2 separate regions of the Homo sapiens genome follow, and region 1 is linked to region 2. Evidence: fine-mapped expression QTL. A gene starts in region 2. The other region holds a variant in brackets. All regions are shown on one strand. Distances are between the middles of the regions.

Evidence for each region. PIP is the estimated chance that this variant, and not a neighbour inherited with it, causes the effect.
Region 1: its variant is fine-mapped to the expression of PREX1 in whole blood (INTERVAL, PIP above 0.99).

Annotation. Positions count from the first base shown.
Region 1 is chr20:48,624,444-48,629,809 of GRCh38, forward strand. It overlaps PREX1 (phosphatidylinositol-3,4,5-trisphosphate dependent Rac exchange factor 1), which reads right to left. Exons shown (of 40, transcript NM_020820.4): 37 at 5,006-5,178; 38 at 3,418-3,520; 39 at 3,105-3,172; 40 at 1-1,484. The coding sequence ends at 1,442. Among named protein-coding and RNA genes, the nearest start is that of PREX1, 200 kb to the right of the region's middle. The variant TG/T (reference allele first, on the strand shown) is at 2,285.
Region 2 is chr20:48,824,833-48,830,198 of GRCh38, forward strand. It overlaps PREX1 (phosphatidylinositol-3,4,5-trisphosphate dependent Rac exchange factor 1), which reads right to left and starts at 3,167. Exons shown (of 40, transcript NM_020820.4): 1 at 2,810-3,167. The coding sequence starts at 3,028. RefSeq lists silencers at 2,661-2,730, 3,141-3,820.

The sequences.
Region 1 (5,366 bases), 200 kb before region 2:
CTCGTGTATGCTGCGGCAAGAGAGGGAAGCGCACCCTGGAGGGCGGGAGGCTCGGATGCCAGATGCCGGGAGGGCTTCAAGCTCCCAGGCCTGGGGGCAGCAGGGAGCCCCCACCTGAACTCACCACCTGCCAGGGGTGACAGGCGTCCCCCCGCTTCCTCCCCAGCTGTGACCTTTCCCTGAAGGCATACCGAAGCTGGGGGGACAAACTGCCGAGGGGGCTTGTGTGGGTCCCTCCTCCCCAGCAGGCAGGGTGGCTTCCTGTGCTCTGGCTGGTGATGTCCCAATCGCCCTGCTCTGAGAAGTTACCATCAAGAAAATAAATCACAGAAGCCACCGCCCGGTGTTTCCCAGTGACCCTCTAACCCGTGTGACACGGCACCTCAGGTGGGGCTCCATCCCCTCCAGCTCCAACCCTGGCTGGCCACCTCTCAGGCCCTTGTAGCCAGTCACTCAAAGAGAGCGAGTTCTAACACCGGCCAACCGCTGGAGAATGGAGGGTGGGGGAAGGAATCACAGTCGATACCTCAAAACGACACCTTACAACCCTAATATTAACAAACAGGAAACAATGACATTTTTTAATTTTTCAATAATTTAGTTTTTCTTTTGTGCTCTTTTTTTTTTAGTAGAAGCAGGAACAGTTGTCAATACTACCTTCTGTTGGTCCCCTGTTAGACAACATACCTTTCTTTGAAATGTAAAATGTCAAATATATAATCACACAACTTTAGAAAAAACAAACTTTGACAACACCAACAACAAAAAATCCCAAAATAAACCAGAGATTTCATGCCATATAAATAAAGTCAGAGCAAATCTCGTGCCCAGGGCTGGTGGCCCCAGTTCCAGGGGCGGTGATGTCCAGAGCTGGTGTGGCTCTCGGGGATCCTCTGGTAACAGGCGTGATGGAGGCCCCGTCTCTCCTTTCCCGACAGAGCCAAGTCTTTTCCAAGTCCACCAAGCAGGTTAGTACAGGGTTAGGGTGAACCTGGAAGCTAAGATGAGGAGGAGGAGACACGTGTGGTCACCTGGAATGTGGACGTTGAAGGAAACCGGGGTTTCAAAAGTGCAGGCGGAGCCATCCCGAGGGAGCCGGGTGGCCCCATGTGGCCTCCATGACGTTCCCTTGGGTTCTGGGGACGCAGGAGCCGAAGGCCAGGCACCAGCTGCTCCCATCAGCTCTATGGGTCTCCAGCACCCCTCCAGCTTCTGGCAGGCGTGTGAAGAATGGGCCGGCCCAGGGCCAATCAGCCAGCTCGTCATCACAGCGAGGGTGGCCAGGCTTGTCCCGGAAGGAGGCAGGGAGGACGCTGGGCAGGTCCCGGAACGGGCGGCTGCGGAAGCCTTGGGCCATCCCTGGAGAAGGCCAGCGCTGCCTGCTGTGTCCTCCCAAATCCCAGCTCCAGAGGCCGCGGCCCAGCGTGGGGCATTTGGGTGTTCAGAGGTCCCCATCCACCGGCGGCTGGCAGAGGCGGTAGAGGCTGGGGATGGAGGCAAAGAGAATGAGGAGAGGCCGGGGCGGGCCAGGACCTATTTGTATTATTTCCATTTTTACCTGAACATGTAATTCATGCCCAGAAACCCAAACTCACAGGTATATAAAAGATGCAGAGAAAAATATCTATGCTGTCCATGCCTTCTGCTGACTGCCAGGCCCCTACCCACAGGCAGTCTCTGCCCACTCAGAGACTGGCATTTACAAATGAAGACGTGTCTACAGGTGCACGTGTGCGTTCAGCCATGTGGGGGTGGGGTGCACATTCCACACTAGTGGGGGCCAGATGGCCACAGCACTCTGCCCCTTACGCAGTTTCACTTGCTCTATCCTGGGAAACTCTATATGCAGAGATGGTTTTGGAGCCGGGGGACCAGACAGGAGGCTGCGTGGTGTCCAGGGCAAGCAGACTGCAATGCTGCACATGTGGTCTGATGTGGTCAGCGCTCGGACTCCACGCCCAGACTGCCTGGGTTCAGAATCCCAGCTTTTCCATTTACTAGCTGTGTGACATTGGACAAGATACTTAACCTCTCTGTGCCTTAGCGTCCCCACCTGCCAAGTGGGGATGACAGCCGGACTTGGCTCACAGGGCAGCTGTTTGGATTAATGAGTCCACAGAGGGGAAGCAATTGGACAGTGCGTGGCACAGGGCAAAGGCCGTGAAGGTATTGAAAGGAACCACGTGCCACTCGTGAGACACAAACAAGGTGTGTGTGGAGCCCCCAGCGCCACAGCACGCACAGTGACTCTCGTCACCACTGGCAGCAGGTGTTGCCGGCGCTC[TG/T]TGGTTACGTAAGACGTTGCCGCTGGCGGGGAGCTGCCTGAAGGGTCCATGGAACTGTGGACTATTTTTACAACTTCTTGGGAGTCACATTATTTCAAAACAAGAGTTATTTAAAACTTGTGGGCAGATGACGACAGCAAACTAGGGCTGTGGAGATGGAGAGAGGATCAGACGGAAACAACGTCATGATCCTAAAGGGCCTACATGTGGCACCAAGAGGAAGACTGAAAACCACATGAAGAGAGGGCAGGGTGGGAGGACAGGAGGAAACAGCACTCCCCATGCCAAAGACGGCAGGAACAGAGAGCATTCCTGCAAATCAGGCATCGCAGGCCTGGGCCCAGGCTGCTGTTCAGTTCGCATTTCTGTAAATGGCTAAAAGGTTAGCTTAGGTTGGATCAGCTAAAATCACAGAATTCTTAATTCCACCCCAGGTTAAAGCGAGCCGCTCAGGGGTCAGGGACTCAGGGTAGGGGGCACGGGGTGGGGGGCACATGGCATGGGACACAGGGTGGAGGGCACGGGGCGGGGGCTCAGGGCTGAGAGGGCATGGGGCTGAGGGCACAGTGTAGTGAGGTGGGAGGATCTCATAGAGTCACCGCCTCACGGCACACCTGGGGGCTCATCTTCCCGGTGGGAGCAGGAGCTCCTTTGGGAGGTGACAAAGTTGTGTCTGTTGCTCCTCAAAGAGGTTCCCCATAAATGAGAGGGGAAGCCCCATCTGAGCATTAGGGGTTAGGCCAGGAGCATGATGCCAAAGCCAGGCCTGGGTCGCCAGCTGGGAGTGGACAGGAAGGGGCGGACGAGGCAGCCACTCACCGCGGAGCACCCTGGGGCATCTGGTCCTTGACTCGCAGGTTTTTGGCCAGAATCTCCACCCTTGGGCCCTGGAAGAAGGAACCATCAGGCAGGGGCCTCTGCAGGTTCAGGGCACGTGAGGAAGCACACTGGGGGGTGGGGGTGGGGCCCAGAAGCCCAAGGACCCAGAAGCTAAGATCCTTGCTCCCCTCCAGATTCAGAGAAGGCTCAGGTCTGGGGCTGGTGGCTACCAGCCCCTCATCCCACCCTGGCTGCAAGCATGCCACGCCCTCAGCCCAGGGTGCTGGAGGACCCTGTGGCCAAGCGGCCTCACCTGCTTCCGCATGATGTCCGTGGCCTGCATGATGCACTTGGGCAGCAACCCGTGGCTCCGTGCCAAGATGGCCGCCTGCTCCAGGGACACGCTCAGGGTGCTCCTGCAGCAGGGGAGGGAGGACAGCGGGTTGGCGGTGGGGGGACAGGGGTCGGGGGAGGACAGCGGGAGTCAGAGGACAGTGGGTGAGAGCTGGGGCAACTTCCTGTCCCTCCGAGGCCTCCCAGACCCAATCCTGACCATCACGGCAACGCCTCCTCCTGCCGTCCCTCCCCGCTTGCTCCTCTTCCTCCAGGCAGCCACCACCCTCACTGGCAGGCACTCTGGTGCTTCCCCGTCTGCAGAAGCCCTGTTGAGTTCCCTGTGACATTCCCAGTGCCTCGCTCAGAGGAGGACTCGGTAAATATCTGCTGAGTGAGTGGGGGACTCCCTGGGAGCCTCACGACTTGTCGGCTCCGTGGGGTTTGAGATGGACACATCGATTCACACCTCTCTGGGTTTCTCAACAGTTCTAGAACGTGGATTCTGCAGCAAGACCTCTAGGATTCCAATCCTGTCCCTCCATGTAACTCCTCTGTGACCCTGGGTAGCTGAGTTAACCTCAGCCTCCCTATACTATTAACTATGAAACAGGGAGCATGGTGGTGCACAGAGGACCTGGCCCAGCTGGAGGGGCTGTCCTGGGAACCACAGGAAGCTGAGCAGCATCCCGGCCTCTACCCACTAAAGGCCAGGAGCTCCTCCCTCCCCTAAGTTGTGACAACCAAAAATGTGTCCAGACATTGCCAAATGTTCCCCGGGGATAAAACTGCCCCTAGGTGAGATCCCCTAAAATAGGCCCCACTACTGCACTGGTAGAGAAAGACGGAAAGGAGTTAATCTGCATGGAACGTCAATGACCTAGGAGGCAGAGAGCACTGGCCCCGTGAAACATTTATTCAGCAAATGTTTCTTGAGCACCTGTCTCAGGCCAGGCACTGCTCTAGCCTCTGGGGAACAGCAGAGAACAAAAGGGGCCCCTGCCCTCCCAGATCCAGCCCTGCCCTGAGGGAGCCAAGGAGGAAATAAATACCCCAATGAAGGCTGTCTGGGGAGTGGGGGTGAGGGCTGCAGAGGAAGAGAGGGTTGGGAGGGCACTGAGTGGGGAGAGTGGGCACAGTTTGTAACGGAAGGTCAGGAAGCACTCTGGAGAAGGTGACCTCTTCCTCCCTGGGATGAGCACTGGGGACAAAGGATGGAGGTAGGAGGCAGGGGAGCCTCCAGTGAGGTCAGCAGGCCCCATAAACCAGCCATTGCTATTGTTAATGTTGAAGGAGGCTTCCGGCGGAACTACAGGGCACAGCTCTCACACACACTCACTACGGCGTTAGAGAAGCAGGTGGCTCCACAGCCCTGCTAGGACCACCTGCTGCTGCCATTCCGTTTCACAGACAGACAAACTGAGGTGCAGACAGAGCCAAGGCTCTACAGGCAATGGCAGAACCAGGATTGGAACCCAGCCTTCCTGCCTCCTTGCCACAGGACCCCAAACTGACCAGAAGCTAGGCCAGCCCCTCCCCACACCCCGACTCAGCGGGCAGCAGCTCACCTCTGCATGCCTGTGCCACACATGACCATCTGGCAGGCCCCCAGGCGGTAGCAGAGCTCCGAGGAGATGGGGATGAGGCCGGCGCCCACACTCCCAGCAGCACCAGGCTTTGGGTGGACAAAGGACTTCATGAGGCGGCAGAGCTCATCCAGGGCATTGATGGGGCGGATCAGCTGTAGGGGGTACCACACATAACCGGGGAGTTGGAGGAGGTCCTCACAGCCCCTCAGCCCCCATCTGGCCCTCCTCCCCCACCATATCCTTCTAATCCAGCTGTTCCTGCAGCTGCCTCCCAGCTCACCCCTCTGGGGATAACAATGCAATTCAATCTTCTATAACCTCTGCTCAAGAACCCTCTGTG
Region 2 (5,366 bases):
ATGGCCCCTATCACGGGGGTTACTTTCCACGGTTTCCATGGGCCGATGGGACCTTCACACCAAGGACACACGGAGACCAGGGTGGTCCTTTAAGGCCTGCCTCTAACCACATGGAAATAAAAGCAGGGAGGGATTACCGTGCATTCTTCCAAGCCAGGAGACAGCAGGGAAAATCCCTTAGCAAATATAAAGGCTGAGAAGAGAGAGTGGGAAGACAGAAGAGAATCACAACCTGAGGCTGCCAGCCTTGCAACCATGGAAAGCCTTGGTAATTAGCAGTTCCTGAAGCTCTAAGCCCCAGGTTAGTTTTGAAAACGAAAATGCCTTGGGATGTTTAGGGGCCATTCCTGACGGGCCAAGATGAGAGAGGACTCCTGTGGCTCACAAACAACGTATGGCTGGTCAGGTTACACAATCCGTCTGTTTCTGGCACCAGCTTGGGGACACACAAAAGGCCCAGGCAGAAAGGAAGCCCGGATTCCCCGCTCCTTGTTTCACAGGTGGGGAAACTGAGGTCAGGACACGTAGCATGATTGGTCCAAGACACATGTCCAAGTCAGAACCAATTCATCTCAGAACTGACACATCAGATACAAAAAGAAAAATGTGATGAAGTCAGCAAATGTAAAGTGTTAAGGAGATAATGTGAAAGTAGAGAAATCTTTTTTTTTCCTGTTTCTTGAATAATAAGAATGGTTGGCTCCAATCAATTTCCATTATTCCAGCTTCCTCCTACTCTACACGTGGACGATTTAAAACCACAGTTAACTCAAACACAATCTAGATCTGTTCTAAAATGAAACACACCATCTAGGGCAGGGGCGTGGGAGGGAGAGGTATATTTTCTTTCCCATTAATATCAAAATTGGTTTGTATTTCCTGTTTCTCTTCCAAGCAGAGGAGCATGGAGTGGCTCAGAAGGAGAAGTCAGGAGTTCCCTAGAATTTGACATTGCTCAGAGACACCAGGGTTGTCTACATGTTTAATTCAAAAACTGCCAGCTTCTAACAGAACAAATTCTTCCCCCACCCCCCACCCCCGAAACTGTGAGAGAAGAAGGGATGGGAAAGAAAGCCAATCCTGCCTTATTCTTACAGGCCTTCCTAGAAGGGTCCTTTAGCCAAATGGTTTTCAATGCTTCTGCACAACCCCCTCTCCCACATCCCCCTGCCCCCAGTACATCTCCTTTCACAGGCAGAAGGGCTCTAGTCTAAGGCTGTCTCCTCCCTGAGCTGGAACTCTGATCTCACACAGCCTCAGCTGCACCCCTAAGCCATGAGGAGCCCCAGAGGACCCCAGAGTCTCCCTCTTTCTCCCAAAGACTAGGAGCTACAAAGCCTGGCTCTAGGGTCTTTGAAAGAGCCACCCCCACACCAGCCCTTCCTGAACCAGGATTAAAAGACTTCCTAGAGCAGAGAAGGGGAGTAAATGAGGCCCCAGCAGGAGGCATGGAGATTAAAGACTTTAGAGTCTCCTAACTTCCATCCAAGGCTCTGCCCCGTCCCACCCCCTCCACCCGCTGGCCACTTTTCTCACTTCCTAGGAGAGTAGGGAAGTGGCCCCTTCCTCCCTCTCACAGAAAAAAAGCAAAAGAAAAATGCAGCATAGAATAGGGGTTTAGAACACCAGCTGGGATAGTCCCGGTTCAAAGCCCAGTACCCCCACTTAATCAGCTGTGCGATCCCAGACAAGCTACCCGGCCCCTCTGGAGCTAAACTTTCCCAATCTTAAAAACGGAGGAGGCAGGACCCAGTAGCTCACGCCTGTAATCCCTGCACTTTGGAGGCCGAGGTCGGCGGATCACTTGAGGCCAGGAGTCCAAGACCAGCATGGCCAACATGGTGAAATCCCCTCTCTGATAAAAATACAAAAATTAGTCGGCCGTGGTGGCTGGCGCGTGCCTGTAATCCCAGCTACTCGGGAGGCTGAGGCAAGAGAATTGCTTGAACCCGGGAGGCGGAGGTTGCAGTGAACCGAGATTGCGCCACTGTACTCCAGCCTGGGTGACTGAGGGAGACTCCGTCTCAAAAAAAAATTTTTTTAATTAAAAATGGGGGAAATACTCGTCCCTACTTCATAGACCGCCTGTGAAGGTTAAACCTGCTAATTAATGACACATGTAAGGTGTCTGGCACATAGTAAGTGGTCGGTTGTTATTTTACAAAGTCTGAGGCCGTGGTTTTGCACTTGGAGATGGGGAGTTGGTGGGGGTGGATGCAGTTAGGGAGCCTGGACTGCCGAGTTTTGAGTTCGAAACCCACTCTCCCCGAACTCCAGCAAAAACCTGTGCATGGGGGATTCTACCCTGGGGTTCTGTCAATCCCCGCCCCTCCTCTGAGCTTCAGGTTTTATCCTACTCCATCAACGCGCAGGGACGTTGGGCTCTGGGGCTCCTACGGTATGTCCTAGATGAGTGGTGCACCGGGCGCGTAGTTATTCCTGGGAAAAAGACGCAGGAGCGCCAGCTCCCGGCGCCGCCGGGGTCCCCAAGCCCCTGCATCGCGGATGTAACTAATTTTAAAACTATTTGAAAGGCGGGGACGGGGAAGAAAAGACAAAAGGGCAGCGCGCGCCGCGGGGAAGTGGAGTGCGGGAGAGCCCCGGTCGGAGCAGGACCGTGCGCCGGCCAGGGAGGGAGGCGACGCGACAGCTCTGGAGGAGCTCGGATCCCCCCCGCTTTCCGCGCGCCCTGCGGGGCGCCCCCGAGGCAATTCTCCACCCACGGGGACCACGGCCACAGGTTGTGGGGACCGCAGCGGGGCGAGCGGCTGGAGGGAAAGCTGTCCCCAAGCTCCCGAGCGACACTCACCGACTGCAAGAAGCGCAAGGTGCCCACGTAGTCCCTCTCGGTGCCCAAGATCTCGTTGAGGACGCAGAGGCGGAGGCGCAGCTGGCGCTCGGACTCCCGGGCGGCCGCGCACGGGCCGGGGCCGGAGCTGGGCGCCGCGGCGCCAGGGGCCCGGGGGTCCGGGTGGGCGCAGTCCCCGGCCCCGTCGCCGCCGGGCTCGCTGCCGCTGGGCGCCTCCATTCTAGCGCGGCCGCGCGGCGCCGGCTCCTTCCGTCGCGCCGAGCGGCAACTCAGGCGTCCAGGCGCCCCATCCCGGACGGGGCGCGCCGGCGGGCCGGGCTCAGCGGCGGGCCGGGCTCCCGGCGCGGCGGGCGGGACTGGGGGCCGGGCGGCTGGGCCGGGGGCGGAGGCAGCGCGCGGGGGCCGGGCGAGGGGCGGGAGGGGGCGGCCCTCGGGGCTCCCAGACGGCTGGCCCCCCGCCCCCGCGCCAGGGACCGTCTGCCAAGTGCCACGCCGCGCTCGGCCGCAGAGGCGCTCTGCGCGTGCACGGGGCCCCTGGGGACGCGGCGCGGCGCTCGGCGCCTCCGTCGGAAGCTCGGGGGTCGGGCGGGAGCCTCCGGAAGGGCCCCGCGGAGCCGGGAGTCCGAGGCCGCGCGCACGCCGAACCGAGCGTACCAACTCCGCGCCCGGACGCGTGGCGCCCCCCCAACCCGCAGTCACCGCGGGCTACGCCACTCCCACCCGGCACACGCGACACCCGCCGCGCGCAGGCTCCTGCTTGCAGGTCCGGCCGCTGCTCGGGCCAAGTAAACACCGGGCTGGGAAAGCTCGCTGCGGAGCCGCTCGGGGGCAAGCCAGCCCCGCCACGCGCGCCTCCGCGGCCCCGGGAAGTCAGGGGCGACCGCTGCCTGGGCAGTGACGGCCCCTCTCTGGGCAGTGACGGCCCCTCCCGGGAACGCCGGGCCCTCGCGGTGCCCTCGGTGCTACCACGACCTTGGGAAGGAACATGCGTGGCGCGCGCTCGCTCTCACTTTTCTCTTTCCCGTTTCCTTTCCCATCTCTCTCTTTCCTTCCTTCCTTTTCTTTCTGAACTTCTTTGCCCCCTGACCCTGCCCTTTCCACCTTTCCCAGAAGAAATTATTACCTGCTCTTGAGTTATTGATCAAGTGGCAGGTACCCTGCCTGCTCCCCCTTCCATCCACCCACCCCATGGGATAAGGCCTTGGGAAACCCAGCTTCTTGTCAGGTTGCTCTGGGCAATGTTGATCATCACCCGCCTTATCGGAAGGTATGGAGAGGGGAGGAAGTTCTGGGGCCTAGAGTCAGCTGCTCAGGTTCAAATCCTAGCTCCCCACTTGCTGGCCGGGTGGCCTTGGGCTGGTTTCCTTGCTTCAAGATCCTCAGTGTTTTCATCAGTATAACGGGAACGATCATGGTACCTAGCTCCAAGGTCCTCCCCGGGGTTCCATGGGAAGTACTTAGCACCTAGAAAGTTCTCTGTAAATGTTTGTTCTTACTATTATTGCATGTGTGAAGCCCAACACCTAGAAAGTTCTCTGTAAATGTTTGTTCTTACTATTATTGCATGTGTGAACGGCCCTCTAAGCCTGGCCCCACTCTCAAATGGCCCATACAATCCCTAATCACCCGTGTTTCCGGACCAGAGATTGTATCGTCTCTGCAGGGGATAAAGTGATCCACATAGTATCCGCCTCTAGACTGTAGTCATTTTATGGACAGAAACATTGCTTATTTATTCCTGTTCCAAAAGCCTAGGATTTTCCTCCCATTGGCCTCTCAATACTGTAAGTGCCTAAGGACACAGGGAGAGAATGGGGTGGCTTCTGCCCTCTCTGACTTCTTTCTTTGGGATCATGGGCAAGGTAGCATTTGATCTGGGCCTTGGGCTGAGTGAAGTTCCCCTGGGCAGGGAGTAAAGGACATGAGATAGGTGAGCCTGTCACGCTTGGGTAGTGGAGTCAATTGTGTCCAAAGGTAGCTGGTTTTTTATTTATATTTTTATTCCTAATAAAGGCCTCTGGAGTATCTCTGCTTTGTGACTTTAAACTGTTCACGGTACCTTTCTGAGCCTCCGTTTCCTCATCTTTAAATTAATTCTGTCTACCACGAGGGGAGAACATGGCTGGAACATAATGGACCATGGAATGAAGCGGGCTTGCATTTGTATCCCAGTCCAAATCCAACTGGCAGGGTAACCTTGGCCAAGACACGTTATTTCTCTGGGCCTCAGTCGTCTAATCTGTAAAAGGGGAGTCTTTGTGAGAGCGAATTCTATGCAATACAGACTTTCTCAACCTTGGGACTATTGACATTTGGAGTCACATAACTCTTTGTTGGGGGAGGGGCGTGTCCTGTGCATTTCAGGACATTTAGCCGCGTCCCCTACCCACTAGATGCCAGTAGCACTCCCTCCCCAATCTGAGAATCAAAAATGTCTCCAGGCTGGGCACAGTGGCTCCGGCCTCTAATCCCAGAATTTTAGGAGGTCCAAGTGGGAGGATTGTTTGATCCCAGAAGTTCAAGACCAGCCTGGGCAACATAGCAAGACCCTGTCTCT